Linked DNA regions of Homo sapiens: regions 1, 3, 4, 5 and 6 are each reported to be linked to region 2. Evidence: microRNA targets listed by miRTarBase, many of them from high-throughput screens and not tested one by one. Region 2 holds a microRNA gene; each other region holds the end of a gene's coding sequence.
The links. The annotated mature microRNA hsa-miR-4728-5p reads UGGGAGGGGAGAGGCAGCAAGCA and lies in region 2 at 2,641-2,663, shown strand. An mRNA with a match to its seed (bases 2 to 7 or 8) in the 3' UTR can be bound and repressed. Matches are read on the target gene's strand: a 7mer-m8 pairs with bases 2 to 8, a 7mer-A1 pairs with bases 2 to 7 and ends in A, and an 8mer does both.

Region 1: the mRNA of SIT1 is a reported target of hsa-miR-4728-5p. The part of its 3' UTR that is shown has no 7-base or 8-base seed match.
Region 3: miRTarBase lists SPEF1 as a target of hsa-miR-4728-5p. Seed matches in the 3' UTR shown: 7mer-m8 at 3,621-3,627.
Region 4: miRTarBase lists AMER1 as a target of hsa-miR-4728-5p. Seed matches in the 3' UTR shown: 7mer-A1 at 1,494-1,500, 7mer-m8 at 1,711-1,717, 7mer-m8 at 3,923-3,929, 7mer-m8 at 3,972-3,978 and 7mer-m8 at 4,493-4,499.
Region 5: the mRNA of NPC1L1 is a reported target of hsa-miR-4728-5p. Seed matches in the 3' UTR shown: 7mer-A1 at 1,125-1,131.
Region 6: the mRNA of KRT80 is a reported target of hsa-miR-4728-5p. Seed matches in the 3' UTR shown: 7mer-A1 at 3,480-3,486, 8mer at 3,467-3,474, 7mer-m8 at 3,109-3,115, 7mer-A1 at 2,775-2,781 and 7mer-m8 at 2,733-2,739.

What each region holds. Positions count from the first base shown.
Region 1 is chr9:35,645,638-35,650,707 of GRCh38, forward strand. SIT1 (signaling threshold regulating transmembrane adaptor 1) reads right to left here. Exons shown (of 5, transcript NM_014450.3): 2 at 4,865-5,000; 3 at 4,720-4,778; 4 at 4,547-4,608; 5 at 3,658-4,444. The coding sequence ends at 4,211. It overlaps LOC101926948 (a long non-coding RNA gene), which reads left to right and starts at 633. Exons shown (of 2, transcript NR_135130.1): 1 at 633-796; 2 at 1,053-1,839. It also overlaps a transcript of CD72 not described here. RefSeq lists enhancers at 805-1,184, 4,045-4,094 and a silencer at 5,005-5,070.
Region 2 is chr17:39,723,856-39,728,925 of GRCh38, forward strand. It overlaps MIR4728 (microRNA 4728), which reads left to right and starts at 2,640; the gene lies at 2,640-2,706. It overlaps ERBB2 (erb-b2 receptor tyrosine kinase 2), which reads left to right. Exons shown (of 27, transcript NM_004448.4): 19 at 57-155; 20 at 871-1,056; 21 at 1,194-1,349; 22 at 1,472-1,547; 23 at 1,852-1,998; 24 at 2,707-2,804; 25 at 2,960-3,148; 26 at 3,440-3,692; 27 at 3,834-4,803. The coding sequence ends at 4,189. It overlaps MIEN1 (migration and invasion enhancer 1), which reads right to left. Exons shown (of 4, transcript NM_032339.5): 4 at 4,655-5,070. RefSeq lists an enhancer at 2,448-3,420.
Region 3 is chr20:3,773,965-3,779,023 of GRCh38, forward strand. It overlaps SPEF1 (sperm flagellar 1), which reads right to left. Exons shown (of 7, transcript NM_015417.5): 4 at 4,987-5,026; 5 at 4,782-4,842; 6 at 4,457-4,580; 7 at 3,540-4,355. The coding sequence ends at 4,248. Among named protein-coding and RNA genes, the nearest start is that of SPEF1, 5.0 kb to the right of the region's middle. RefSeq lists a silencer at 4,117-4,366 and an enhancer at 4,502-5,059.
Region 4 is chrX:64,185,111-64,190,171 of GRCh38, reverse strand. AMER1 (APC membrane recruitment protein 1) reads left to right here. Exons shown (of 2, transcript NM_152424.4): 2 at 1-5,055. The coding sequence ends at 293. Among named protein-coding and RNA genes, the nearest start is that of AMER1, 18 kb to the left of the region's middle.
Region 5 is chr7:44,508,743-44,513,812 of GRCh38, reverse strand. NPC1L1 (NPC1 like intracellular cholesterol transporter 1) reads left to right here. Exons shown (of 19, transcript NM_001101648.2): 19 at 164-1,278. The coding sequence ends at 366. It also overlaps the pseudogene RPL36AP27. Among named protein-coding and RNA genes, the nearest start is that of NUDCD3, 21 kb to the right of the region's middle.
Region 6 is chr12:52,167,258-52,172,327 of GRCh38, forward strand. KRT80 (keratin 80) reads right to left here. Exons shown (of 9, transcript NM_182507.3): 7 at 4,941-5,070; 8 at 4,401-4,456; 9 at 1,739-4,265. The coding sequence ends at 4,141. Among named protein-coding and RNA genes, the nearest start is that of KRT80, 22 kb to the right of the region's middle.

The DNA of each region.
Region 1 (5,070 bases), not on the chromosome of region 2:
ATCAAAATATCTCATGTACTCTATAAATACATACACCTACTATGTACCCATAAAAATTAAGAATTAAAAAACACTTGGTTTCTCTCCACAACCCAGCTCTGTTTCCCTCCTTGTAAGAAAACCAAGCTGGAAGTTTAAACCCATCTTTGAGAGACTACAGAGCAGGGCCAAAGATGGAGGTGCCCTGGCCGGATGGCTTCCAAAGACCCTCCCCACCTATAAGTAATTTCTTAAGAACCTGGCCAGGCTCGGTGGCTCAAGCCTGTAATCCCAGCACTTTGGGAGGTCTAGGTGGGCGGATCACCTGAAGTCAGGAGTTCACCAGCCTGCCCAACATGGCGAAACCCTCTCTCTACTAAAAATACAAAAATAATTAGCCGGGAGTGTTGGCGGGCGTCTGTATTCCCAGCTACTCAGGAGGCTGAGGCAGGAGAATCTCTTGAACCTGGGAGGCGGAGGTTGCAGTGAGCCGAGATCGTGCCATTGCACTCCAGCCTGGGCGACAGGAGCAAGACTTCGCCTCAAAAAAAAAGAAAAAAAAAAAGAACTTCCTGCTGTTGAACCTTTGACTGTCCCGGAGACCCTCCCTCTTCCGTTTTCAATGTGTCCCTATCCTCCTAGCTAGGCTTTAAGAAAGAGGAGGGACAGCTGGGGCCCTAGGAGCTCCCCCTGAGGGTCTGTCCCTGGGAACGGGGCGCTAGGACGGGCACTCCTTCTGGCTGGAATGCTACGCCGGTGAGGGAAAGGAGTCCACTAGGGAAGTACCTGGAGGTGGAGACGGGGAGAGAAATCACAGGTATTTGTGAGTCGATCAGCTAGAGGGTGTGGCAAGGGGGGGCCCCTCGGAAGATGTCTTAAGTTCCAGGTTCAGGAATCAATAGGGAAACTGCCCAGTCCTTGTGTTCAGGGCTGAGGGCCTCGGTGACGGAGACGAGGTAAGAAAACGGAACGGCTGTACAGGAGAAGACAGAGAATCCGGGCTGGGGGACGGAAAACAAAGTTCAAATCATACCCCGCTACAGTCACATATGAAAAATAAAATTGTTTTACAGAAACTCAGTTTACAAACGACTGCTTGGGAGCAGTCATGTCACCCAGTCCAGAGGGAGCCGGTCAGCTGCGTTCCGCGAACTTGGGAGGCGACTGCTGGGGTAGCGGCGGGGCCCTCACTGCGCGTCGTCAGGGACCAGACCCTGGGGTGGCCCCGAAGCGTCGAGACTACAACTCCCGGGATGCCGCGGGCCAGGCTGCATCCCGCCTGCGCAGAAGTGGTGGCAACTCCGCCCCTCGCCAGGCGGCGGCGCTGCGGACTCAGTCCTAAGCGGGCGAAGGCGGCGAGCGCCGTGGGTCTGGGCGGGCCAGGAGAACCGGGTGCTTCGAGGAGATCTGCGGGCTGGGTTGGGGGCGTTTGACCCCTTGGCTTGTCCCAGTGGGTAGGCGGGACTCCAACCCCCGCCTCCTCCAGGGTAAAGCTCTCACGTCCACCTGGCGCGACGCTGAGCCATCTTCAGAAGCACCGCAGCCCTCAGAACCCCACATCCCGCTGCCGGTGGTTCCCCGCATCCGGTGTCCGCCCCCGAAGCCTCCCTCCCTCCCTCCTCCGCATCCCCAGCTACCTGCCCTTAACCGCGACCTGGGCCTCTCCTGGGGAGGCCCAGGGTGGGGTCCTCAGAGGTCCAGGGACCCAGGGGCATTTGTGGGGTCTGTAGGGGGGTGGGCTTAAGGGAAGGGTGGTCCCTTTCAAATTGGGACCACCAGGCAGGAATCAGGCGCACGGGTTCCTCCTCTGTGGCTTCCTGTGGCACTCCAAGTGGGAAGAAGAGAAGCTTGGAAGTGAAAGCCTCAGCTTCTCCTTTCTTCAGCCCCTCAAGCCTCAGAAAGATCTGTCAAGCGCGGCCCGCCTCTACAGAGGCCCTGGGGAGATGGTCTAGACCTTGAAATATCCTAGAAGAGGTTTGACAGGTTGGAGCTTTTGCTAGACAGATGGATCACAGATGGGCTTAAGGGGTGGAGGGTGTGTGTGTGTTTGTGAGAGAGAGAGAGAGAGAGAGAGAGAGAGAGAGAGAGATTGCCAGGTGAGGAAGGTGATGAGCTGAAACCAACTTGGAGCTATGCTGTATTATGATGATGAGGATTTGGGTTGGGGGGTGTTACAGGCTCTAACCAGAAATCTGGAAGATGTGATAGGTGGGGCCTTTAAAAAAAAAAAAAACCCTAAACATCTCTTTGTAATCCATCCCTCCTCTGCATCCCTACCGCTACTGCCGCCATCCCCTCTCACTCAAATCTTGCAATAGCCTTTGAAAGGCGCCGCCTGACTCCAGACTGCTGACCACTAGATCAGCACAGCAGCCAGTGGAGTTAGAGCCTTTAACTCACTGTGTTCATCCCTCGCTTAAAACTTTCAGTGACTCCCTTTCACCTCCCCTGCAGGATAAAGCCCAAGCTCCTTGGCATGACTTATGGGCGCAGTGTGATCTGGCTCTGTCTGCCCCTCCAGCCTCATCTTACCATTGCCCCCATCTCACTCTACCCTCCGCTGTGCCTAATGCACTTCTGCCAGGTCCTCTGAATAAGCCTCTCCTTTGCCTGTGGTTCCCTTTGCCTTGGAGCATTTTCTGTCCTTCGCTTCTCCTGGCAGATTCCTACTATGTGTCATGTCTCTACCTAGAAGTCACTTCACCTATGAGCTCCCATAGAGGATCCTGTATTTCTCTTATTTTAATAATGCCTAGCATTATTGAGCATTTATTGTCTAAGTGCTTTACAAATGGTAACTCATTCAGCCTCACAACCACCTTTTTTTGAAGTAAACACCGTTAATATCCTCTCAATCTTACAGATTCAGAAACCGAGGCACAGTTGCCCAAGAACACACAGCTGGTAAGTGGTAGACATGGAATTTGAATGCAGGCAGTCCGGCTCCTGAGCCCAGAGTCCTAATCTCTGTGCCAACTGGCTGATGTAGCATGCTATATGGGGTAGGAGGCTGGGGTTAAGAATCAGCAGGTGATGGGTGGACAGGCAGGACAAATTAGATGGGGATTAAAATGAAAGTGGTGACAAGCAAAACTGTTGCCAAGACTGCAGGTGACAACTGAGAGAGTGAAGGCCAGGCACGGTGGCTCATGCCTGTAATCCCAGCACTTTGGGAGGCCAGAGTGGGAGAGAGTGAGTGGAGATGGACCGCTGCCATAGTGATGGGGTAAGGAGAAGGCCTCTAGGGGTATACGATGACTAAGTGCAGATAAGGCTACTGATGTCAAAACAGGGGTATAGGTGGGACTCATAGCGGACAGACGGAGGTCAGATTGGAGGACTTGATGAAGGAACCAGGCTGGCAGGTTGTGGAGGTGATGGCAGTTATAGAGGTCAAGGGGAGAGTAGCTCAGGACTGTGAGCTTGCAGCCCCAGGGGGAATGCAGTGGCTCTGAGTGCAGATCCCAGGGGTGTTCTAGCAGCAGCAACAGCAGCTGAGGAGCTGGGCTCTGGCCCTCCACCCCGGTGCCCACCTCTGCACTGTTGATGCCGCAGCCCCTCTTGGCCCCTCATCCCCAGCTAGGCACCCCCAGAAAGAGCTCCGTGCAGACAGCAAAGCTCACACCCCCATCTGCAGGGCCCTTTGCAAGTCTTCAGCCTTCTAGGTAAAAATCTAAACACTTTTTGGAAAGTTTTATTTGAAAACTTGGGGACAGGACAGAGACAGCAGGATGGAGACTGTATTCTCCTGCTAGGGTTCTTAGGTCAAAAGCCAGGCTCGGGTCCCTCCCGTCTCTAAGTTCCAGGTCCACTCCAGTCTGTGGACTCCTGAGGAATATACCCACCCACCCACTGTCAGGCCCTTACCCCTCCCCCACCGCCCACTTCCTGTGCCTGAGGAGACACTGAGGCGTGGGGGTAGACTATGAGGGAGCGGGGGTGGGGAGGATCTGGTTAAACTCCAGAAGAAGGAAGTGAGAACCTGGGAGTTTGGGGGCTAAGAGGAACAGATAGAAAAAAGAAATAAGGAGGGGGCTACTGTCTTTGCCTCCTCCATCACGAAAGCTTTGCCCTGAGATGTCTCCCTTGAAGCTCAGATAGGAAGTCCGGGGTAGATCACATCCTGTGACTTGGCAATGGCGCCCGTCTTTGGGTGCTGGTTGGGAAACAGTCATGCCCCTGCTACGGGGGGCTGGGGCAGTGCACGCCCCGCTGTGCCAGGCCCTCCATCTCAGCTGGCTGCAGGCTGGCTGTTGGCATAGGCCTGATCCGGGAAGGAGGCCCGGGCCCTGCGGGTCTGGGCACATACTGAGGCATAGAGCTCCGGCTCGGGGCCCGAGGCCTGGGACTTTGGCTCAGAGTCCAGCACCACCTCCGAGTACTTGACGGGGGTTCCAGGACCGGGGATCCGACCCTGAGGAGGCCGCAGCTGCAGGCTGGTATAGCACATCACCTCCTCTGCAGCCTGGAGATGCAAGGCTGTTAGAAGTTCACTGGACCCTCGGAAAAGCCCGAAAAGCCCCCCACTTCCTTCCCTCCCCCTTTTCTCCAGCCACAGTTGACTCACCCTGGCAGGGCCTCCAAGAGTTGGATCCTGCTGGTCTGGCTCTGGGTCTTGAGACAGCCGTCCTGGGACGGGGAACAGGAATCTGGTCAGCAACTTGTCCTTCCTCCTGCACGCCCCCATCCCAGCCACCCAGGACCTGGCCTCTGTGCCCCTCCTCTCTGCCAGCTCCCTACCTGTCTGTAGATAATGCAGGTTCCCATACAGCGGGACCTCTTCCACAGACTCTCCAGAGCTGCAACGCAGAGTTTAGGGGATGAGTGGGGACTTCTCGGTAAGAGAGAACTCTCAGTCAACCCATCCCTGTTGTCCTTCACCCACCGTCCCTGCCCCGGATGGCTCCTGCTCCGGCCCCTGGTCCACTGGGACAAGTGTGCAGCCAGCGAGATGAGAAATAGCAGCGTCACAGCCCCTAAGAGGACCCACAGTCCCCAGGCCTGGGTTATGGAGGGGATTCCTGTGGATGTGAAAGGAAGGGGGGTGTAACAGCCCCGCCCCACCCCCAGGGCCCAGCAGGTGGGACCTGG
Region 2 (5,070 bases):
GGCAGGTAGGATCCAGCCCACGCTCTTCTCACTCATATCCTCCTCTTTCTGCCCAGGGCATCTGGATCCCTGATGGGGAGAATGTGAAAATTCCAGTGGCCATCAAAGTGTTGAGGGAAAACACATCCCCCAAAGCCAACAAAGAAATCTTAGACGTAAGCCCCTCCACCCTCTCCTGCTAGGAGGACAGGAAGGACCCCATGGCTGCAGGTCTGGGCTCTGGTCTCTCTTCATTGGGGTTTGGGGAGATATGACTCCCGCAAACCTAGACTATTTTTTTGGAGACGGAGTCTTGCTCTGTCACCCAGGCTGGAGTGCAGTGGCGTTATCTCGGCTCACTGCAACCTCCACCTCCTGGACTCAAGCGATTTTCATGCCTCAGGCTCCTGAGTAGCTGGGATTACAAGCGCCCGCTAATTTTTTTTTTTTTTTTGAGACAGAGTCTCGCTCTGTCACCCAGGCTAGAGTGAAATGGTGCGGTCTCAGCTCAGCCTCCCAGGTTAAAGCGATTCTTCTCCCTCAGTCTCCTGAGTAGCTGGGATTACAGGCGCGAGCCACCACGCCCGGCTAATTTTTGTATTTTTAGTAGAGATGGGATTTCACCATGTTGGCCAGGTTGGTGTCAAACTCCTGACCTCATGATCCGCCCGCCTCGGCCTCCCAAAGTGCTGGGATTACAGGTGTGAGCCACCGTGCCCGGCCTAATCTTTGTATTTTTAGTAGAGACAGGGTTTCACCATGTTGTCCAGGCTGGTACTTTGAGCCTTCACAGGCTGTGGGCCATGGCTGTGGTTTGTGATGGTTGGGAGGCTGTGTGGTGTTTGGGGGTGTGTGGTCTCCCATACCCTCTCAGCGTACCCTTGTCCCCAGGAAGCATACGTGATGGCTGGTGTGGGCTCCCCATATGTCTCCCGCCTTCTGGGCATCTGCCTGACATCCACGGTGCAGCTGGTGACACAGCTTATGCCCTATGGCTGCCTCTTAGACCATGTCCGGGAAAACCGCGGACGCCTGGGCTCCCAGGACCTGCTGAACTGGTGTATGCAGATTGCCAAGGTATGCACCTGGGCTCTTTGCAGGTCTCTCCGGAGCAAACCCCTATGTCCACAAGGGGCTAGGATGGGGACTCTTGCTGGGCATGTGGCCAGGCCCAGGCCCTCCCAGAAGGTCTACATGGGTGCTTCCCATTCCAGGGGATGAGCTACCTGGAGGATGTGCGGCTCGTACACAGGGACTTGGCCGCTCGGAACGTGCTGGTCAAGAGTCCCAACCATGTCAAAATTACAGACTTCGGGCTGGCTCGGCTGCTGGACATTGACGAGACAGAGTACCATGCAGATGGGGGCAAGGTTAGGTGAAGGACCAAGGAGCAGAGGAGGCTGGGTGGAGTGGTGTCTAGCCCATGGGAGAACTCTGAGTGGCCACCTCCCCACAACACACAGTTGGAGGACTTCCTCTTCTGCCCTCCCAGGTGCCCATCAAGTGGATGGCGCTGGAGTCCATTCTCCGCCGGCGGTTCACCCACCAGAGTGATGTGTGGAGTTATGGTGTGTGATGGGGGGTGTTGGGAGGGGTGGGTGAGGAGCCATGGCTGGAGGGAGGATGAGAGCTGGGATGGGGAGAATTACGGGGCCACCTCAGCATGTGAAGGGAGGGAAGGGGCTGCCTGTGCCCCACCTTGCAGGGTCTGTGCACTTCCCAGGATTAGGGAAAGACCGGGTAGGGTCTGTCTCCTGGCATCACATCTCCCCCTGCTACCTGCCATGATGCTAGACTCCTGAGCAGAACCTCTGGCTCAGTACACTAAAGCTCCCTCTGGCCCTCCCACTCCTGACCCTGTCTCTGCCTTAGGTGTGACTGTGTGGGAGCTGATGACTTTTGGGGCCAAACCTTACGATGGGATCCCAGCCCGGGAGATCCCTGACCTGCTGGAAAAGGGGGAGCGGCTGCCCCAGCCCCCCATCTGCACCATTGATGTCTACATGATCATGGTCAAATGTGCGTGGCTGAGCTGTGCTGGCTGCCTGGAGGAGGGTGGGAGGTCCTGGGTGGAGGAGCCCACAAGGGGCATGAAAGGGGACCAGGATGTATGTAGACCCAGGAGCCCTAGTATGTTAGGAGCCTCAAAACCTTCTTGTATCCCTTTTACAGTCAAAGTCCAAAGCCACTCTTGAGGAACACTCTTGTACAAAATTAAGCTGGGCACAGTGGCTCATGCCTGTAATCCCAGTACTTTTGGAGGCTGAGGTGGGAGGATCCCTTGAAGCCAGGAGTTCAAGACCAGCCTGGGCAACATAGTGAGATCCTATCTCTACAAAAAATAAAAAAATTATCTGGGTGTGGTGGTGTGTGCCAGTAGTCCCAGCTACTCAGGAGAGGCTGAGGCAGGAAGATCACTTGAGCCTAGTTTAAGGTTGCAGTAAGCTATGATTGCACCACTGAAATCCAGCCTGGGTGACAGAGCGAAACCTCATCTCAAAAAAATAAAAAAGCAAACAAAAAGAAAAAAAAAATTAAAAGGGAAACTAGAAGAGATGCCAAAGGTTCTGGCTGAAGACCCCAGAGTCTGGTGCTACTTCTCTACCACCTGAGGGCTTTGGGCTGTCCCTTGGGACTGTCTAGACCAGACTGGAGGGGGAGTGGGAGGGGAGAGGCAGCAAGCACACAGGGCCTGGGACTAGCATGCTGACCTCCCTCCTGCCCCAGGTTGGATGATTGACTCTGAATGTCGGCCAAGATTCCGGGAGTTGGTGTCTGAATTCTCCCGCATGGCCAGGGACCCCCAGCGCTTTGTGGTCATCCAGGTACTGGGCCTCTGTGCCCCATCCCTGCCTGTGGCTAAGAGCACCCTCCTGCAGAGGGTGGGAAGGAGAGATGAGTCCAGTATGCCAGGCCCCTCACGGAAGGCTGCATGCTGGGCTGGGGAGGGGCCACCATCCTGCCTCTCCTTCCTCCACAGAATGAGGACTTGGGCCCAGCCAGTCCCTTGGACAGCACCTTCTACCGCTCACTGCTGGAGGACGATGACATGGGGGACCTGGTGGATGCTGAGGAGTATCTGGTACCCCAGCAGGGCTTCTTCTGTCCAGACCCTGCCCCGGGCGCTGGGGGCATGGTCCACCACAGGCACCGCAGCTCATCTACCAGGGTCAGTGCCCTCGGTCACACTGTGTGGCTGTCTGCTTACCTCCCCCAACCCCGGTGGACTAGGGTCCCTTTCTCTGATGTTCCCTCAACTGTCACCTCTCAAGGAAACCCCATTATCCCTACAAAAAATTCTTACTGCCTTCCAACCCCTGTGACCCCATTCTCTCCACGGTGACTGTGTCATACCCCAAAGGTGACCTCTGTTTTTCTCCTGTGACCCTGTCACCTTCCATGGAGTCCCCATCCCAGATCCGTGAGTGACCCCCATCATGACTTTCTTTCTTGTCCCCAGAGTGGCGGTGGGGACCTGACACTAGGGCTGGAGCCCTCTGAAGAGGAGGCCCCCAGGTCTCCACTGGCACCCTCCGAAGGGGCTGGCTCCGATGTATTTGATGGTGACCTGGGAATGGGGGCAGCCAAGGGGCTGCAAAGCCTCCCCACACATGACCCCAGCCCTCTACAGCGGTACAGTGAGGACCCCACAGTACCCCTGCCCTCTGAGACTGATGGCTACGTTGCCCCCCTGACCTGCAGCCCCCAGCCTGGTATGGAGTCCAGTCTAAGCAGAGAGACTGATGGGCAGGGGAGGTGGGACCTTCAGCCCAGGGTCCACTGTGGGGGCAGAGGGAGTGGCAGAGACACCGGGGTTCCTTCCCCTAATGGGTCACCTTCTCTTGACCTTTCAGAATATGTGAACCAGCCAGATGTTCGGCCCCAGCCCCCTTCGCCCCGAGAGGGCCCTCTGCCTGCTGCCCGACCTGCTGGTGCCACTCTGGAAAGGCCCAAGACTCTCTCCCCAGGGAAGAATGGGGTCGTCAAAGACGTTTTTGCCTTTGGGGGTGCCGTGGAGAACCCCGAGTACTTGACACCCCAGGGAGGAGCTGCCCCTCAGCCCCACCCTCCTCCTGCCTTCAGCCCAGCCTTCGACAACCTCTATTACTGGGACCAGGACCCACCAGAGCGGGGGGCTCCACCCAGCACCTTCAAAGGGACACCTACGGCAGAGAACCCAGAGTACCTGGGTCTGGACGTGCCAGTGTGAACCAGAAGGCCAAGTCCGCAGAAGCCCTGATGTGTCCTCAGGGAGCAGGGAAGGCCTGACTTCTGCTGGCATCAAGAGGTGGGAGGGCCCTCCGACCACTTCCAGGGGAACCTGCCATGCCAGGAACCTGTCCTAAGGAACCTTCCTTCCTGCTTGAGTTCCCAGATGGCTGGAAGGGGTCCAGCCTCGTTGGAAGAGGAACAGCACTGGGGAGTCTTTGTGGATTCTGAGGCCCTGCCCAATGAGACTCTAGGGTCCAGTGGATGCCACAGCCCAGCTTGGCCCTTTCCTTCCAGATCCTGGGTACTGAAAGCCTTAGGGAAGCTGGCCTGAGAGGGGAAGCGGCCCTAAGGGAGTGTCTAAGAACAAAAGCGACCCATTCAGAGACTGTCCCTGAAACCTAGTACTGCCCCCCATGAGGAAGGAACAGCAATGGTGTCAGTATCCAGGCTTTGTACAGAGTGCTTTTCTGTTTAGTTTTTACTTTTTTTGTTTTGTTTTTTTAAAGATGAAATAAAGACCCAGGGGGAGAATGGGTGTTGTATGGGGAGGCAAGTGTGGGGGGTCCTTCTCCACACCCACTTTGTCCATTTGCAAATATATTTTGGAAAACAGCTAGGCACCGGCCTATGTCTGGGGGTGGCTCTGTGCCATCCCTTCCTGCTCACCTTACACTCAATTCCTCTTTTCCTGGAGGGAGTGGCTGGGAATCTTCAGAAAGCTTGGATGAGGAGCCAGACATCCAGTTCTCCAGCTTCAGGGTTGGGGGAGATCGGGAAGCTGGATTCAGATCTGAGAGCCCTTTGACGACCAGATCATTCTTATTTAGAACGAACTAATTCCTAAGGCCACTCACCAGAATGGGGTTATTTCCTCCTTGT
Region 3 (5,059 bases), not on the chromosome of region 2:
CCCAGCATTTTGGGAGGCTGAGGCAAGAGGCTCACTTGAACCTAGGAGTTGGAGACCAGCCTGGGTAACAAAGCGAAATCCTGTCTCTACAAAAAAAAAAAAAAAAAAAAAAAAAAAAAAAGCCCAGGAGCAGTGGCTCACACCTGTAATCCCAGCACTTTGGGAGGCCGAGGTGGGTGGATCACCTGAGGTTAGCAGTTCGAGACCAACTAGGCCAACATGGTGAAACACCATCTCTACTGAAGATACAAAAATTAGTTGGGCGTAGTGGCAGGTGCCTGTAATTCCAGCAACTCAGGAGGCTGAGGCAGGAGAATAGCTTGAACCTGGGAGGCAGAGGTTGCAGTGAGCCGAGATCATGCCGCTGCACTCCAGCCTGGATGACAGAGTGAGACATCTCATAAAAAAAAAAAATTAGCTGGATATGGTGGTATGCACCTGTCCTCCCACCTATTCTAGAGGCTGAGGTGTAAAGATTGCTTGAACTTGGGAGGCTGGGGTTGCAGTGAGCCAAGATTGTGCCACTGCACTCCAGCCTGGGCGACAGAGTAAAACCCTGTCTCTAAAAAAGAAGGGAGTTAGGGCTGGGTGCGGTGGCTCACGGCTGTAATCCCAGCACTTTAGGAGGCCGAGGCTGGTGGATCACCTGAGGTCAGGAGTTTGAGACCAGCCTGACCAATATGGTGGAACCCCGTCTCTACTAAAAATACAAAAAGTAGCCGGGTGTGGTGGCGTGTGCCTGTAATCCCAGCTACTTGGGAGGCTGAGACAGAGGAATCACTTGAACCAGGGAAGTGGAGAGTGCAGTGAGCCGAGATCATACCACTGCACTCCAGCCTGGGTGACAGAGCAATACTCTGTCTCAAAACAAAAAAAAAGAAAGAAAGAAAAATTTTTTAAAAATTAAATTAAAAATAAGGGAGTTATAATCTTATCTAATGTAATCACAAAAGTTGACATCCTATCACATTTGCTGTATTCTACTTATCAGAAGCAAGTCACTAAGTCCAGCCTACATTCAAGGAAAGGGTACACATGGGGGTGACGTCCAGGAGGCAGGGATTACTGGGAGCCACGTTAGGAGCTGTCTACTACAAGGAGGAAAAAGCAATGAAAGGATGAAATCTAGGATGGTGGTTATCTCTGAGTGGAAGCAAGGGGGAGAGATGCAAGAAGCACATGGCCGGTGAAAGTTATTTGTAATAATTCCATTCTTGGGGCAGGTGGTGGATTTATAGGTGTTCATAAGTGAGTTGATTATGGACAAATGGGGAGAGAGTGTCATGAACCAAGGATTATATTTAGTCCAATTCAGTAATATTTAAAATATTCAATAATAAATGAAATAAAAATTGCCAACTACTCCTGACCTTGTTCTGAGCCCCATCCATGCACTCCACCTGGTCTTAGTTTAACACTGGCTCCACCTGACCCTCCACTTGCCCCAAACTAACCGTTAGCCCTTCACACACACTGACCCTTGCTATAGCACCACGATCTCTCCATAGTCTGCAATAGGCCCCCGGAGTTCTATTCCCTGAAACTTTTATCCATGTAACCTCACCTGTAGGCTGCTATATGTAAAGATAGTAGGAATGGCTGATGGAGTGGCCCGAGGACCAGGAGACAGGGCAGGCTAACAGTTCTGCCTTAGCAGTAGCACTGTGGGCCCAGAAGACAGGTTTGATGGCTGGTATCACGACCTCACCTATTGGCCTCCTACATGGCAAAGGCTGGGCCAGGTCCTGATGGTTCTTCCTCTTTGAGGCTTCTGCTCCTGGTATCCAGATATAGCTAAGTCTGTCTCTGAGAAGTGCACCTCTGCCACAGCACCAGGCCTGTAACTCCCTTGTTGGTAATAGACTCTATCAACTCTCTCCTTTCCTGTCTTTGATGAAGTAAGCTACCATACTGGAGATGGCTATGTGTCAAGGAAATGAGAGTGGCTATTGGCCAACAATGAGTAAAACACTGAAGCTTTCAGTTTGACAGCCCACTAGGAAGTAAATTCAGTCAGCAACCAAGTAAGCCTGGAAGCCTGGATCCTTCCTCAGTTGTGCCTTCAGATGAGACTGCAGTTCTATTGGCCCTTTGCTTGCAGCCTTGTAGGAAACATTGAAGTGGAGGACCCAGCCAAGCCTGGCCTGGACTCTTGACCCACAGAAAATGTGAGATATAATAATAAGTATTTGTTGTTCTAAGCTGCTACATTGGTGATAATTTGCTACACAGTAAGAGATAATGTATACAGGTTCTTTTCATTTCTTTTGCTATTACAAAGAGTGTTTCTGTGGGCCAGGCATGGTGGCTCACGCCTGTAATCCCAGCACTTTTGGAGGCCAAGGCAGGTGGATCACTTGAGGTCAGGAGTTCGAGGCCAGCCTAGCCAACATGGTGAAACCTGTCTCTACCAAAAATATAAAAAATTAGCCAGATGTGGTGGCATGCACCTGTAATCTCACATACTTGAGAGGCTCAGGCAGGAGAATCGCTTGAACTCAGGAGGTGGAGGTTGCAGTGAGCCGAGATCGTGCAATTGCACTCCAGCCTGGACGACAGAGCAAGACTCCATTTTAAAAAAAACAAAACCAAACAAAAAGAGTGTTGCTATGAACGTTGTTGTAACATGTCTCCCAGAACACAGAACACAAGAGCCTAGGTTTCCCTTGGGTATGTGCTGGGTATATGCCTAGGAATGGAATTGTTAGATCTCAGGATGTTTGTTTTGTTTTGAGACAGAGTGTCCTTCTGTTGCCTAGGCTGGAGTGCAGTGGTGCGATCTTGGCTCACTGCAACCTCTGCCCCCCAGCTTCAAGCAATTCTCCTGCCTCAGCTTCCCAAGTAGCTGGGACTACAGGTGCCCGCCACCACGCCTGGCTAATTGTTCGTATTTTTAATAGAGATGGGTTTTCACCATTGGCCAGGCTGGTCTTGAACTCCTGGCCTCAAGTGACCCACCTGCCTTGGCCTCCCAAAGTGGTGGGATTACAGGCCTGAGCCACCATGCCCAGCTGGATCTCAGGATTTACAAATGTTCCACATTACTGGTAGTCAGAAAACCATTAAAGTTAGGGTCATGCCATGGCTGTAGTGTGTTGGCCAGGGTTGGGAGTAAAGCCTGGCCTCAATCCATGGAAGTTGGGATTGTCTGTGGGCAGGGTTGGAGTCGTACAGAGGGCCGAGTTAGGGGTCAGTCCTTACGTAGGGTTGAGGGTGAGTGTGTGGCCACATTTGGGAACAATTTGAAGTCTGGTTTGGGGTTGGGTTTGGACAAGGTTGGAGAACACTGTGAGGGTGGGTTTGGGGGTCAATCTAAGGCCAGGGTTAGAAGTTAGGCTGTCATCCTGTGCAAAACCTGACCCCTGGTGATATCATCAACCTACCAAGCTGTGGCCGCACAGGACCCAGCCACCCACAAGATGAGATCCACTCTGGGTCCAGAAAGCTCTTTCACTCAAGGCGGGGGTGGGGAGATGGAGGACAAGTGAAGAAGAAACTGGCTCCCCTCAGATGCAAAAAGAGAAGGCAGGCACAGGAAATAGAACACAACACTGACTTTAATGGGGCAGCCCTGAGCCGTAACCTTCAAACCTTCCGCCTCAGTACCCCGTGCGCGAGGAGGGAGGGGCGACTGCTACGGGCACATCGTCGATGTCCTCCCTACTCCTGGCGATCCCACGCCTCACCCCTTCCTCTCCAGCTGCTGCGGTCTCCGTCGCCGAGGTGGGTCCCAGGTAAGCTCCCAGGAGGGGCAGGGGAGCCCCTCAGCGGCCCGGGACAGATTCCCCCATGGCTGAGGGCATGGGGAACTAGCCTGGATGGAGACGCCGCCGTCCTCGGAGCTGGGCGGGGACCTGATTCTGGGGGTGTGGACAGAGCCAAGGGACCGCCCCCCAAGGCCCAGCGCCGGGAGATGCAAGGCCGGGCCCAAGGTGTTGGACACTGCTTTGGGGGACAGGCTAGGTCTCTGCACGTGGCTTCTGGGCTCTGGAAAGCGGTCCATTCTCCTGACCCGGATCTCCGGAGTGGTAGGAGGCGGCTCAGTCCCGGGCCTGCGCTCCTAGAGTTCCTGTCCCATCTCCTCCCACGCTCACCCATCCCAAGGAAGGAGGGCACTCGGGCCCCAGCAGGCTCGTGAGAGCAGCGGGCTCCGCCCTCCCAATGGTCTATCCATCGGTGGGTGGGTCCGGCGCGGCGTCGGGGCTCTGGCGGGTACCCGGGCGTCCCCGCGCGGCCCGGGCCGCCGCTCACCGCTGCTTACGCTCCGCCTGCTGGAGCCGCCGGGAGAGGTCTTCGATCCGCACATTCTTGAGCTGGAGCAGGTGCTCCAGGCGCCTTACCTTCATCTGCAGGACCTAAGCCGCACCGCGCAGGCGTCAAGCCTGGCGGTCTGCTCCCTCCTGCCCGGCCTCTGCTGGCCGCGAGCCCCCACCCGCAGCCTTCCTAGACCCCTCACCTGCACGGTCTCTTGAGAGGCCAACAGCTCCTGCTCCTTTTCAGCGATCTGGAGGACGAAGCTGGGGTCGCCCTGCAACGCCCGGTTATACGCTGGAGGCCGAGGCGCCGGCGGCCGGTCCCAGCTGGGGTGGGAAGCAGCTTAGCGGAGGCTTGGACCTCGGGCCCTACACTCACCCTTCCAGGGCCCTCGACCAGGCCTTCCCTTCTCCCCCTCTAGCCCCTTTCCTGCCTCCCGTCTCAGGCTCAGCGTACCGTGCCCCCCAACCCCAGCTGTGTGCAGAGATCACCAGCCTGGTGAAGTCTGGAACTCCCAGCTTCTTTACCTGAGCTGACCCCCTCCCTGGGGGTCCGGGACACCTTCACCTCGGGCCTTCTGGGATACACCTGAGACAAGGCAAGTGGAGGAATGACTGTGCTGGAGTCTCATTCTCCTGCTTCCCCCTCCCTACTTCCACTCTCACAAGTGACAGGAAGAAGGACAGAAGGAAAGCTCCAACCGGGAGGGAGAAATGGAAAAGGCCACCTTACCCACATCCATGTAGCCACTGCCATCCTGGGGAGCCAGCTCCTGAAAGAACCCCGGGGGTCCGCTGTAAGCCCG
Region 4 (5,061 bases), not on the chromosome of region 2:
AGGCCTCCCAGAGCATGAGGGCCAGGCCTCGAGATGTGCTGCTGCCTGTTGATGAGCCCAGTTGCTCTTCCAGTTCTGGAGGCTTCAGCCCCAGCCCTCTACCACAGGCCAAGCCTGTGGGCATCACCCATGGCATTCCTCAGCTGCCCAGGGTCCGGCCTGAGCACCCCCAGCCTCAGCCCACTCACTATGGGCCTTCCAGCCTTGACCTGTCAAAGGAGAGGGCTGAGCAAGGTGCCTCTCTTGCCACCAGCTACTCCTCCACTGCCATGAATGGAAACCTAGCCAAGTAGTTATTATCAATTCTGGAGTAGGGACACGGGGCCTGAGCATGTGAATGGGGATCAGGGGTTGGGCAGAAGGGTGGGGGGGTGGGGGTTGTTGTTTAACTTGAAAACCCTTTGGGCCAAGGAAAACTCCTGTGAGTTTTCACCTTGGTTTTCCCACTTGCCTCTTCTGCCATCTATGGCCACGTTCAACTCAAGTGCATCTGCCCAGGGAGGCTGCTGCTGCTACTGCACTCCAGTTTTTGCTTTCGAGGTTTCTTCTTGTGACCCACGCTGGGTTTGGGATGCTGTAATTTTGTGCCTATTCCAGTTGCCAAGTTAGTGATTATATATATATATATATATATATATATATATATATATATATATACACACACACACACACACACACACACACACATACATACACACACACACACAAACACACATGCACACACATATATAGCATGCATCCTTGACACAGGCTAAACCTTTAGTGCCCCCTGCCCCTTTCCCCCAATGAATGATGAACCACTGATTAGCAGCCAAGTCTGCATTGCCTCCCGCTTGGGGAAGTGGGGCTTATTTGCTATTAGCAATGTGAAATTATGGTACAGATCCTCCCCACCCCTATTCCTTTTGGCCTGGCATAGCTGCCATCATTATATCAGATGACTATAAGCTATTCATCCCAGCTAGCTGTCCTTAGAGAGGATCAAGTAGCGTGTGTCTCACAGCCTATCGCTGTGGACTTTGGCATCATGACCAGATGGGGGCCTTTTAACTGTCCTGCCATAGCTTGGGTTAAAGACAAAAATGCTAATCCCCTTGATGGAGTGATAAAATTCATCCATTTGCAAACAGAAGACAAAACAAGGTTCTGTTGTGGACACTGCCATAGAGTGTTGAGCTCCGGAATGATAGGATTTTTTTTCCTTCTTTTAAGCTTGTGACTACCTGAGTTGCAGATGCTTTTGAATTTTTGTTCTTTTTTCCTCTAAAGGAAATTTTCATAATCTCATCACAAGGAACACGGTCTTTTAATTGAGATAAGGGAAGAGAAGCAACCTAAATTAGGCTTGACTATAGGGGCTGGGGTTTTTGTGGAGTGTAGGGGAAAGATAGAAAATGAGGGTCCATTTATCACAGCCAGCAAGAAAGGGGATTTCAGACCATGCAGAGCTTAAGGTATCTCAGTTTCTTAAAAGGGAAAACTCCCTTCTCAAGCCTCCCAACACAAAATGTTCCTTAAGCCTTGCCCATCCCATCATTTGGACTCTGTAATAAGGCCCCAGGTTTGCACTCCCAAGACAGGATACCAAAGGCATCTCAGCTGCTGTTCTGGGCCCTTTAAAGAGCTTTTATCTTCCAATTAGCCGAGTCCTTAGCATCATCAAATGACAGGGCTTCTTGGCAGTTGCAGCCCTTTATGGAATGAATGGCACCCTCCCTTCTCCTGCATCCATGCAGTTTTCATGTTAAACTAGGTTGGAAATACTGGTGGGGAAGAGCTTGCTGTCAGGAAGACATTGGAACAGGCTAATCTTGCCAAGCTCAACCTCTCATTAATCACCTGTAGGAGAGGGTTCCTTTTACATGTCTTTATTGGAAATGGCATATGGAACATTTTTTGCTTGGCTGTGTTCACTCAAATTATGATTATTGCACCCTCGCCCTCACATCCCACCATCTCCATGCCTGTTGAGAGAAGAAGTCAACAGGGTTCTTGCCATTCCTGAGATATGGCAATTTAGCTTGGGAACAGATGCTGTTTGCCCCCTAAGTCAAGGTGACTTTGTGGGCAAACTGTTTCTTGGCCAGGGGATGTGTCCATGCTGGTCTTTGTCACCATTTCTCAGATTGGGGTTGGCCCAGTGCCCTTACTCACAAATAGCAGACCTGGCTGGTAGAAGCTGCACCCCTGGAAGCACCACATGAATTTGCATGGCACTAACACCACCACTCAAGGGACCCAGACCAGCTCTTCAGGCTGACTTTGGCTACAGATACATTGTGAAGAAATGTATCTGTTGTGGAGCTGGAGAATGAAAGAGGGTGAGGAAGGCCCTCCTTACCCCAAGCACAGCATTCCAAGAGAGAAGTGCCCAAATTCCAACTTTCTGGCCTCTTACCAAAGCTGCTCTGGGATGGTGGGGCTGAAATTGGCCTGGCTATTTGGCAGGAAGTAAACACTCACCAAATGCCTTTACAACAGGGAAGAACCCACCTCTTGCCTCTTCTTTCAGGGCAGCTTGAGCTCCTGTCTACATGTGGACTGTGCCAGCCACAGCAGGCGGTAGAGCCATCACCAGCCTCCAGACCCTGCTGGAGAAGGGCCACCAGCCTATCTGGGAAGAGAAAAAGGAGGTGGCCAACCTTTGGCTAAGGGCTGAGAGCTGCCCTCAGGATCAGGAAGGCAGCATGAGGCATTGTCTCTGAGGGGCACTGGCATAGCCCTGACACACTTTGTTGGGCTTTGGAAGGTCACACACCACAGAGTAGGGCCTGGGGCTGAGTGAGAGTTCATGGTTTGGACAGCCTTGCTGCCTGCAAGTCCCTTCACTGCCCTAGCCAGCCCAGGAATAGGATCCTTACCACCTGAAGTGGGGCAGCCAGGATATGTGGCTGCAGAAGCAGGTTCCTTTGAATTTCTAGAGCTAAGCAGTTTGTGGCTGAAACCCAATGGCAGCCTAGGGGAGGAAGGAAGACCTGTCTGGGGACCCATGGTGTTGACAGCACAGGGTGACATTGGGAGAGCCAGCCAAGCTTCAGGCCTGTTTCCAAACACAGACTAGTGCTGGCTTGGGTGGCAGCAAATACACCCCAGACCACTAAAACTGTTGATATCATGTCCACACCTCCAAGAGTACTACTAGATGAACAACATGTCTCCATTGCAAGGTCCTGGAATAATGCTTTTGGATGTGATTTTAAGGGAAAATGGGACTTAGTGGAAGTAGCTGCCTTCATCTTATTACCCAATAGGCCTAGTGCCAGACAGCTGTGATCCTGAGAATTCCCAGATGAGACTGGTCCTTGGAGGACCAGTGAATGTGGATAGAGAAGGCCACCTAGTAGGCCTCTCCCAGGGCCAGGATGCCAGTTTCTTGGTGCTTTAGAGTCTCCAAGGAAGCACTGCCTTGGGGCCCAGTTCAAGCCAGCCCTACCTATCTGGCCTCAGCTTGGGTACCAGGCCACAAGACTGCCCGGATAATGGGTTCAGTAAACACCAGTCTCTCTCCCTCCTTAGTCCTATGCCAAGAAGGGAAGTAGCTTCACACACTCAGGAGGCTGGGTGTGTACCCTTCATCCTGCTGCCAGCAGCTTTCCTTACCTGTGCCAGTGCCACCACCCCACCTGCCCTCAGCCCCCAGGCCCAGTTGCTAGAGGGAGGCATGGGGTTTAGCAGGGAGACTTCAAGTTTACCCATGTGTATGTTGCATTCAAGTTGTTTTTAATATATATATATATATATATCAAAAGTCAATTATCTATTTTTATATTGTTTGCATTTTATATTCATGGAAAACAATGTTTATCAATTGTTCTTTTCTGATTTATTTTTAAGCGGTGCTGTTTACAGTTTTAAACAAAACAAAGATGACACAAAAATTGCTGCTGCTTGTGCAGAGGGCTGGCATCTCAACTGCCTAGGGCCCTCCCTCTTTCCCCTCTCCCTACCTTAGCTGTACCACACTGTCCGTTCCCTCCCCCCATGATAGGGACAGCAGAAGATGCCCAGGTACTGAAGACAAACGCCAAGTGACTCAGGCGTGTGGGACCTGGTAGACAGCTTGTCATTTTCTGGCTTTATTTTATGTTTTTCTTTCTTTTGAACCCTTCTTCCCCATGTCTAGACCCTCTGAGAGTACTCATGTGTCTTATTTTTTTTCCTCGTTATGTTTTGTGCTTTAGTTTTGAAATCAGAGTGCCCATGTTGTGCTATTTGTCTTGTTGAGTTTCTCCAAAGGAGCATTTTGGGAACATTCTCCACCCAATGGGGAAGGAAGGGGGTTTCAACCATGTCCCCTTTCCCCAAGAAGCTGTGGGAGACAGATGACAATGATGCTTGCACTATCAGGAATTTACCATCTCGTTGAGGAAACCCTTGCATAGGACTTCCTAGGAGCTCAGTTGATTGTGACATTTTCCCAGAAGAGAGGCTTTGGGGAACTCCTTCACCCCTCTTGCTGCTTTGGGGGAATCTCCTCCCCTACCACCATTCCCCCTCCCCTGCCCTGCTCCAGCTCACACGTGGATGGTACTTTGGGGAACAGTGACTTTCAGGGTGATGGCTTGCTGGCCTGATCCCTGACTTTCCAATCCTATAGTCACTCCAAAGAAGAAAATCCACATGGTATGTATATGTGTGAGGGTTGGGTCTATTGAGAGGTGGGACTTTAATTATTGTTATTATTATTGGTGCTTATTTTTCCTGCTGTATATGGGGGTGGGGGTGGGGGGGAATAAAACAGGAATGTATATTTAGGTCATGTTAAATAAAATGGCTGGAGGAAGGAGGGAAGAAATTAGGAACTGCAGTACATCATCACCCCAGGTGTAAGAGTTATTTCTCTCCCAGTGCAGAAAGGGGAGTGTGGCCCCTGGCTGTACCTGAGCTTCCTCTTCTCCATCCCTGAGACATCACAGAATCACCCGGGTTCTGACCTCTCCACTTCTAGCTCTCACTGACATCTGGATATCTTGATGCACTGCCTGTTTGTAACAACATATACTTCTTTGCTGAATGCTAATAAACTTCTGGGTTCAAGAGGGAACCCCTCAGTCACTAATG
Region 5 (5,070 bases), not on the chromosome of region 2:
ATCCCTGAAGCTTGGGCTGTGAACATAGTGACCCTGGAAGGCACATGGCACAGATCCCCCCTGGGACCCTTCCTGCCCTGGGTTTGTTGTACAGAACCAGGAATAGCTTCTCACCTGTGTCCCCTGCCCACCTCTCTGACTGTGGTTCTCTGTCTCTCCGCAGGGCCTGACGTTAACCCGGCTCTGGCACTGGAGCAGAAGCGGGCTGAGGAGGCGGTGGCAGCAGTCATGGTGGCCTCTTGCCCAAATCACCCCTCCCGAGTCTCCACAGCTGACAACATCTATGTCAACCACAGCTTTGAAGGTTCTATCAAAGGTGCTGGTGCCATCAGCAACTTCTTGCCCAACAATGGGCGGCAGTTCTGATACAGCCAGAGGCCCTGTCTAGGCTCTATGGCCCTGAACCAAAGGGTTATGGGGATCTTCCTTGTGACTGCCCCTTGACACACGCCCTCCTCAAATCCTAGGGGAGGCCATTCCCATGAGACTGCCTGTCACTGGAGGATGGCCTGCTCTTGAGGTATCCAGGCAGCACCACTGATGGCTCCTCTGCTCCCATAGTGGGTCCCCAGTTTCCAAGTCACCTAGGCCTTGGGCAGTGCCTCCTCCTGGGCCTGGGTCTGGAAGTTGGCAGGAACAGACACACTCCATGTTTGTCCCACACTCACTCACTTTCCTAGGAGCCCACTTCTCATCCAACTTTTCCCTTCTCAGTTCCTCTCTCGAAAGTCTTAATTCTGTGTCAGTAAGTCTTTAACACGTAGCAGTGTCCCTGAGAACACAGACAATGACCACTACCCTGGGTGTGATATCACAGGAGGCCAGAGAGAGGCAAAGGCTCAGGCCAAGAGCCAACGCTGTGGGAGGCCGGTCGGCAGCCACTCCCTCCAGGGCGCACCTGCAGGTCTGCCATCCACGGCCTTTTCTGGCAAGAGAAGGGCCCAGGAAGGATGCTCTCATAAGGCCCAGGAAGGATGCTCTCATAAGCACCTTGGTCATGGATTAGCCCCTCCTGGAAAATGGTGTTGGGTTTGGTCTCCAGCTCCAATACTTATTAAGGCTGTTGCTGCCAGTCAAGGCCACCCAGGAGTCTGAAGGCTGGGAGCTCTTGGGGCTGGGCTGGTCCTCCCATCTTCACCTCGGGCCTGGATCCCAGGCCTCAAACCAGCCCAACCCGAGCTTTTGGACAGCTCTCCAGAAGCATGAACTGCAGTGGAGATGAAGATCCTGGCTCTGTGCTGTGCACATAGGTGTTTAATAAACATTTGTTGGCAGAAATGGTGTTTTATGTCACATGTCCTACCCTGGCTTCCTCCTCTCGGTTTAAGATAATTTTTGTGAATGACACAAATAATACATGTGTGGGAGAGTGATTTGTGGAGATACTAGTCTGTGTTTTGTTCTATTTCTCCTCCCTCTTTTCAAGAAAGTAGCCAGGCCATTGTGTGCTCATGCCTTACAAGGGCCTTTGAGGAGTGGGAGTAATTTCTCTTCAAACTGGGAGGGCACAGAGCCTGAGAGTCAGTCAGGAGTAGGATGTGCAGCCCCTCCTTTTCTGGAAGAGACTGTGAAGTAGGCAACACCTGGAGGAGCTACAGGAGAACCACGGTGCATTCAAGGAGGGAAGAACCCACCGTACAAACAACCAGCTCCCAGGAGGGCCCCAGGCCAGGGCAGTGGGTGGAAATGTCAAGGAACATTCCAGATCCCCTCGAGTCTTTCTGCCCCATGCTGGGTCCAGCCCTTGTTTGGCTGAGGGGCTGCTGTTGCTTTGAGGCTCAGAGGGACTGTCAGCATGTAAAGGGAAGACAAGCAAAAAGGGGTGGAAAGGAGCTGGCGTTTCTGGAGCCTACTATCTACTTTTGGGTCCTCATAAGAGCCCCATGTGCCAGCATCATTAGCCCACCTTTGGGAGGGTTGCTGGCTGACCATGATGGACAGGAGGTTTGGTGAAGGGACAGCTACGAGGGAATAGAGGCTGAGGAGAAATCGCACAATTCACCCTGTTAAAAACTCCACAGGTGCAGAATAAACAGATAGATTTGAGGAACAAAATAGCTTTTGACAGCAGACATTTCAAATCAGAGGAAAGGGTAGATCCTTCAGTAAACGGTGTGAGAGTAGTGAGCAAATTATTTGGATCAAAATAAAGTTATATCTATACTTCACACAATACACAAAATAAAAGTACAGACAGATTAAAGCACTAAACACAAAAATGAAACTATACAACTATCGGAAGGAAACACAGAAGAGTATGTTATAATCTTGGAGGGGGAAAAGTTTCCTAAGCACAAAGTCCAGAAGCCATAAAGGTAAACACTAAGGTATGACCATATAATAATGGAAAACATCTGAAAACACACAAAAAATTAAAGAAAGTTGAAAGACACATATGAGCTCAGAAAAATAGTTGCAACATATTTAACAGCAAATAAAATCAAGAAAACACAAAGAGTGCCAATAGTGCTCCTGCAAACATGGTGAACACTCCTAAAACCCACTGGACTTTCTGTAAGAAGTGTGGGAAGCACCAGCCCCACAGAGTGACACAGGACACATTTCCCTGTATGCCTAGGGAAAGCCATGTTATGACAGGAAGCAGAGGGGCTATGGTGGGGAGACTAAGCCAATTTTCCAGAAAAAGGCTAAAACTACAAAGAAGATTGTGCTAAGTTTTGAGTGCATGAAGCCCAACTGCAGATCTAAGAGAATGCTGGCTATTAAGAGATACAAGCATTTTGAACTGGGAGGAGGTAAGAAGAGCAAGGGCCAAGTGATCCAGTTCTAAGTGTCATCTTTTGTTTTATTATGAAGACAATAAAATATTGAGTTTATGTTTAAAAAAAAAAAGAATATACAAAGAGAGTCCAGGTACGGTGGCTCATGCCTGTAATCCCAGCACTTTGGGAGGCTGAGGCAGGAGAATTGCTTGAGGCCAGGAGTTCAAGACCAGCCTAGGCAACATAGCGAGATACTGTCTCTACAAAAAGTTTAAAAGTTAGCCAGGCTAGCTATTTGGAAGGCTGAGGTGGGAGGATTGTTTCAGCTCGAGTTTGAGGCTGCAGTGAGCTATGATGGCACCACTGTACTCCAGCCTGAGTGAAAGAGTGAGCTTCTGTCTCAACAAAAAAAAAAAAAAAAAAGAATATACAAAGAGAGGAAGGAGTGCAGGGGGGAGGTCTGGGTTATGTGGCTAACCTTCCCATTAGAAACAAGACATTCTAGCTAAAATAAATCTTAGCCGTGTGTGTGTGTGTATGTGTCTGTGTGTGTGTATGATGCATACAAGTTTAGGGTGTTTTAACCTTCTTGATAAATTGAGACTTTTATAGTTTGAAATGACTATAAAAATATCCCTTTTTATCTCTAGTATTTATTTTTGTCTGTTTAAGAGATGGGGTTCTCACTTTGTTGCCCAGGCTGGTCTTGAATACTTGGCCTCAAGGGATCCTCCTACCTCAGCCTCCCAAGTACCTGGAATTACAGGTATGAGCCACCATGCCAGTCCTATCTGTAGTATTTGTTCAACTGTATAATGTTATTATACACACACACACACACACACACACACACACACAGACACACACACACATATAAAATAACATACGGTTGAACAAATTTTATACTTAATAGTCAAACATTGAAACCCTTTCCCCTGAGATTGGGAATGAGACAAAGTTGCCCACTTTTACCCAACATTGCACTGGAGGTCTTAGCCATTGTAATAAGGCAAGAAAAAGAAACTAAGTTTATAAGGATTAGAAATAAATAAAATTGACATCATTCACAGATAACATAAATATGTATAAAAAAGATTCAGTCTGGGTGCAGTGGCTCATGCCTGTAACCCCAGCAATTTCTGAGGCCAAGGCAGGAGGATCACTTGAGGCCAGGAGTTCAAGACATAGCAAGACCCCACCTCTACAAAAAAAAATTTTTTTTAAAGATCCAAAAGAATCTATATATAAACTATTGGAATTACTCTAACAAAAGGTGGTCAAGAAAACTATGAAAAATAATAACTTTGTATTTTAATTTGTATAATATTGAGAGAAATTAACTGTCAAAAGAAATGGAGGAATATACCATGAATTGAGGGCTCTATACTACAGAGATGTCAATTCTCTTCAAATTAATTACTAGTTTCACTGTAATTTCAATAATAACCCCAGAAAATTTTTTGTGGAAACTGATAAGCTGATTCAAAAATTCATATAGAACCACAAAAGATGAAAATTCACGAAAGCAATCTTGAAGAAAAACAAAGTCAGAGAACTTACACTACTAGAAATCAAGATAATATAAATATATAGAAATAAAGATAGTGAGATTTTGGCACAAGGAAGAACAAATAGAAAAATGGAAAGAATAGAAAGTCCAGAAACAGATGATACCCACAAGGACACATGATTTATGATGGAGGAGGCATGCAGAGCATTGGGTAAAGGAGGTTTTTCAATGTAGGATGCTGACCTAGTTGGGTATCCACACAGAAAGAAATGAATCATGACCCTCTCCCCCAAGATACACAAAAATCAGTTCCTGATAGATTGTCAATCTAAATGTGAAAGATAAAATGATAGAGTTCTAAAAGGTAACATAAAAGAGTATCCCCAAGACTGAAATAGGAAAAACTTTTCTTAGGAAACAAAAGCCTTACTTATAGAGAAAAAGATTGATAAATTGAACTGTATTGGAATAAAAAAAAACTTCTGTTCTTCAAAAGACATCCTTAGGAAAGATAAAATTCAAACCATAGAGAGGAAAAGATATTTGCACATATCTGAAATACACACATATCTGAGAAAGGGCCTGTGCTTAGAATGCATAAAAAATCTCCTACAACTCAGCAAGAAAAAGACAGACAACCAAAAGAAAAGCTAGGCTGGCTACTCAAATAAGCAAATGGCCAATACAAGTTCCTCAATTTTGTCAGTCACCAGAGCAAGGCTGAGTAAAAGCACAGTGAGAGTTCTTCCTCTTCTCTTCCCTCACAATTTGGCCTACAGGCCATGGGGTAAGGTGGGGCCAGGCAGCACATGTGGGGTGTCAGAATCCAGGTGGTGT
Region 6 (5,070 bases), not on the chromosome of region 2:
TGGGCTCAAGCGATCCTTTGCCTCAGCCTCCCAGGTAGCTAGGACTACAGGTGCTTGCCACCATACCTGGCTAATTTTTTTTTTTTTCATAGAGACAGGGTCTTGTTATGTTGACTAGGTGGTCTCGAACTCCTGGGCTTAAGCAATCTTTCTACCTCGGCCTCCCAAAGTGCTGGGATTTCAGGTATAGCCATCACCTGGCCTCATGAAATTCTTGACTATGAAATTCATATTCATATTCAGAAATTCAAACTCTGACTCAGAAATTAATAAAACAGAAAACAGAGATAAAATGAGAGAGCTGGTCTCAGCTCTAGGCCTCTCTTGGACGGGTATGTGGCTTATCAGTCTCTTCAGAGTTTTGAGAGTGGAGCCTGCCCTTCAGGGTCTTCAGGAGAATGGATAAACTCAAGCCTCTGAACTTTAGCCCAGGGGCCTGGCTGTGCTGTGCTCTTAGCCAGCACGAGGTCTATTTGCTTGCATTTGAGTCTCCTGATTAGTTGGTCACCTTTAATCCTTAATGTCTGCTGTAATAATCACACCATCACTAATAATCCTTTACAATTGTTGAGCTATTATAGTTCAGAGTGACAGAAGCAAGAGATGTGGCTTTCCTGAAATGAATAAACATAGCCACCTCATCAAATGCCCAAGCACCCCGTGAGTTAAGTAGGGAAGAGGTGTGCCCCATTTTACAGATGAGGAAAGTGATGCTCTATTTGCCTAAAGTCTCCTTGCTGGTGAGTGGGTGGGCCAGGACACAAATGCTGCCACGTCCCTTCCCGCTATTCCTTTCCTTTGAGACAGACACCTGTTCCTGCTTTGGTCTGTCTCCTAACTGAGATCCTTTGTGTTCACTTAAAGTCCCCCTTCTTCTAAGCAGCCTGTTCTGATTCCCTCCACAAGCCCTTCTCTTCCCTGACCTTTATAGCACCCACTTCTGCACGTGGTGACGAAGTCCAGGGTGGCTACCTTGGGTGGATATCTCATCTCTCAGCCTGACTGTGAACTACTTGCGATTGAGGGGTGGACCCCTGTCTTGGAGGAGTCTTAGCACAAGGCTGGGCTTGGAGAAGGTCCTCAATCCTTATGCATTGACTTGGGATTTGATTTGGCAGGATTGGGCCCGTACGCATCAGAATACATTCTGGGCTGTGTCAATTCCCAGTAGGGCAGAAGTGCTTAAGAAGAAACCCTGCCACCACTGGGGAATCCCCAGCATGTGTGCTGGCTAAAGCAGCCTGTGTGGTGCCTGGATATGTCAGGAGGCGCTGGGAACATAGGTCAACGTTGGTGCAGTCTCAGTGCAGCACAGTGTATTAGTCAGCCCAGGGGCCTGGCTGTGCTTATAGTGTGTTCTTAAACACACTATAAAGAAATCCCCTGGCTGGGCGCTGTGGCTCACACCTGTAATCCCAGTACTTTGGGAGGCCGAGGCGGGCAGATTACTTGAGGTCAGGAGTTTGAGACCAGCCTGACCAACATGGTGAAACCCCATCTCTACTAAAAATACAAAAGATTAGCCGGGGATGGTGGTGGGTGCCTGTAATCCCAGCTACTCGGGAGGCTGAGGCAGGAAAATTGCCTGAACCCGGGAGGCAGAGGTTGCAGTGAGCCGAGATCCAGCCACTGCACTCCAGCCTGGATGACAGAGCAGGATTCTGTCTCACACATACACACACAGACACACACACACAGACACACACATACACAAAAGAAAGAAATCCCTGAGACTTGGTAATTTATAAAGAAAAGACATTTATTTTGGCTCACAATTCTGCAGGCTGTACTGGCATGGCACCAACATTTGCTCAGCTTCTGGTGAGGGCCTCAGGAAGCTTACAGTAAAGGCGGAAGGTGAAGGGGGAGCAGGCATATCACATGGCGAGAAAGAGGGGAGAGGTCTCAGACTCTTTTAAACAACCATATCTATGTGAATTGAGTGAGAACTCACTCATCACCAAGGAGATGGTGCTGAGCCATTCATGAAGGATCCTCTCTCATGATCCAAATACTTCCCACCAGGCTCCACTTCCAACACTGGGAATTACATTTCAACATGAGATTTGGAGGGGACGAGCATCCAAACCATATCAGATGGTGAGACAGGAGAACTTTGTGTGTACCAGCTGCACTGGTCTGAAGATATAACTAAGTCCCTGGACTTTTTCTCCCTTAATTGGAGAATTCCTAATGTTCCATGATCAGCCTGATTGACCAGTGGCTGACTGGTCCTGAGAGGGGAGATAAAAACAGACACACAGCTTTCTCCATAGACAAATCTCAACACTTTATTCATCCTGTGGCAGCAAGAAGGGGACATGGCCCCAAGATAGCCAATCAGGTGAGGTGGCTGGAGTATGTGTTATCTTTCCAGATAGTACATACAGACTGATCATGCAGAAACAGGAAGGGAAGCAATAAGTTAAAAGCCACATAAGTTATGAAAAAATAATATATACTTTATATGTCTTGTATCCCCACTGAGGATTTGCTCCCTTGGAAACCAATGAAGAGCCTGAGGAAAAGCACCAATCAGCACCCTCTTTTGGGACTTTGGGGATGAGAATCTCTGAGTTCCCATGGCCAGAGAGTCAGTAACCCTCCAGTGCTCCCCACAGGCCTGGAGGGCCTTGAGGCCTGGGATGGGCCCAGACCTCTGGCCAACATGTCCTGGCAAATGAGATGAATGAATCTAATGCAGTCTAGAAGAGGAGGTGAGGCAAGGGGCAGGGAGGGGAGAGGAGAGTGAAGGAGGGAAGGAAGCTGTGCAGTGGGAGGCTGGTGCCGCTGGGATGCCTCTGCAAGCCTCAGCATTGAGAGCCAAGAGGAGGAGATAGGAGTATGCCTGCCAACACCCCTGTCTTCTGGTGGGATGTGGAATTTTCCTCTCTGGTAGAACCCTTGTAAGGCTGTCATTTGGGCCCCACAGCTGGACCTCAAGGGCTTGGAAGCTCCCAGACTTGCCTGGACTGTGCCTTCTTCCTGGCCTGCTGGAGGCAGGGGGAGTGGGCATGGAGGGAGGAAGGGGAAGGAGTGAGAAGAAAGGAGGAGCTCTAACCCCATAGGTGTGGGGGGTTCCTGGGCTCCCCCATGAATGCCAAGGAGGGGAGGGCCAGGCTATTTGGCCCAGTGGAGAGGAGAACAGAGGCCCTGAGAAGTGAGATTCTTGGGAAGTGGGCCTGGGGCTTCACGGCAGGGGTGGGACCAGGGGTCTCCAAGGCCTGGTGCACCAAAGCCCGGTGCTCAGGCTGGGAACAACCCGGCTGGGGGCACAGAGCTCAGATCCAGGCTGGGTAGGACCCCAGCATGGCAGGGAGGTGAAAGGAAGATCGAATGCTCCTGCCCAATCTCAAGCTGCCATCTGGCTTCCACTCCCAGGGAGTTGATTATGGCAAGAGCAGCTTCCGGAGAAGCTGCTGGGAGCTGGCTGGGGGCAGCCCATCCAGTTCTGACTACTGCCTACTGGGAGGGACCCATGGGAGGAGGAAGGGATGCGGGTGTTCGGGCTGATCTCTGGGGCCTAGGCTTAGGTCCCAAATAGCCAGGGCCCCTCCTCCCTTCACTCCCTAATACTGTCAGGTCTCTGGGGAGCCCAAAGAGCACGGGAAAGCCAAGAGGGTCTTCAGCAGCCAGCCTTCCCAGGAATTCCAGATACAGGACAGGGCCCACGCCGTCCTCCTCGGCTCCCGCACATAGGTGGATGAGCCAGTCCCAGTCCCAGTTCCGAGGCAGAGACAAGGCAAGGCTTGAGATAGGAGTCAAGGTCAAGGATTGGGCAAGAGTCAGAGGGGCCTTGGCAGAGCCTGATGCTGGAGGAGGAGCCTCAGAGGAGCGAGGAGGTGGAGACAAAACTGACCCCTAATTCCGACTCACCCATCAGGAAAACCTCTGGCCAGAAGGTTGGAAGGATGGGACTGTGAGATACTGATATGGAGCGGAGTGGCTCTGAGGAGCTGGTGATGCTCCTCTCCCACCCTGGCAGCCCACAAAACACAGTCAGTTTTGAACCCCTCTCTCAGTTCAATATCAGGTTTTGCCTCTCTTCTCAACCTAGAGGCTCCAAGCTGCTTTCTTGAGTCTAGCTTAAGTCCCTCCTGCTGCAGTGGAGTGCCCTGGGGTTCCTGGGGTCCAGCCGCCTTACTCTGAGACCTCCGACTCCTGCGAGAAGTACTTCTCTGACATTTCGGTGATTTTGATCACGGGGCCTTTGCTGCCCTTCTTCTTTCGGGAGGGGGCCTTGGAGAGGCCTGATCTGGAGGCAGCTACAGGGAACATAAGGGGTAGGGGAGGGAAGGGGCTGGAGGTTTGGGAGCCACTTAAAATGATGCCTTTAGGATCATGATCCCCTACACCCTCACCCTCACCCCACCATGGGTTCTCGGGGCAAGAGGACTCACCGGTTTTGCACCTGGACTGCACAGCGCTGACCACAGTGGCTGAGGGCGAGTCCATCCTGGGGGTGGGGGACGGGGGGGTGGGAGAGGGATATGATGGGATGCGAAGAGAGCCTGTGGCTTAAACTCCCCTGGGGGCTGGCAAGTGGAGGGTAGTTCTTGGTGGTCACTCCCAGCCCTGGGGTTGCCCTGTTGTGTGGCCCTGGCTAGCCAGCTTGTCCTTCCTGGGCCTCTGTCCCATCTCCATGGCATAAATGGCTAATAGCATTGAGCACTGAGTTTTGACAGGCATTTGCAGGCATAATCACATGAATCATCCCTGCCACAGGTGAACCATGTTTATGATCAGCCCACTTTCCAGATGGGGAAACAGGATGAAATGAACTGGGCCAAGGTCCCAGTTTGTAAGTGACTAAGCCAAGACTTAAACCCAGGCCTGGTAGGCTCACTGTATCATATTGGAAAGGAGAACTGACTTTGTGTAGGCCTGGGCCTCCAGCCCTCCTTCCCCTGCAGCCCTTCCTCACCAGCCCTGGCTCTCACCTGCCCTCCTCGCCCTCCACCAGCTTCCTGTAGGTGGCGATCTCGATGTCCAGGGCCAGCTTGACGTTCATCAGCTCCTGGTACTTGCGCAGCTGCCGCGCCATGTCCTGCTTGGCCTGCTGCAGGGCGG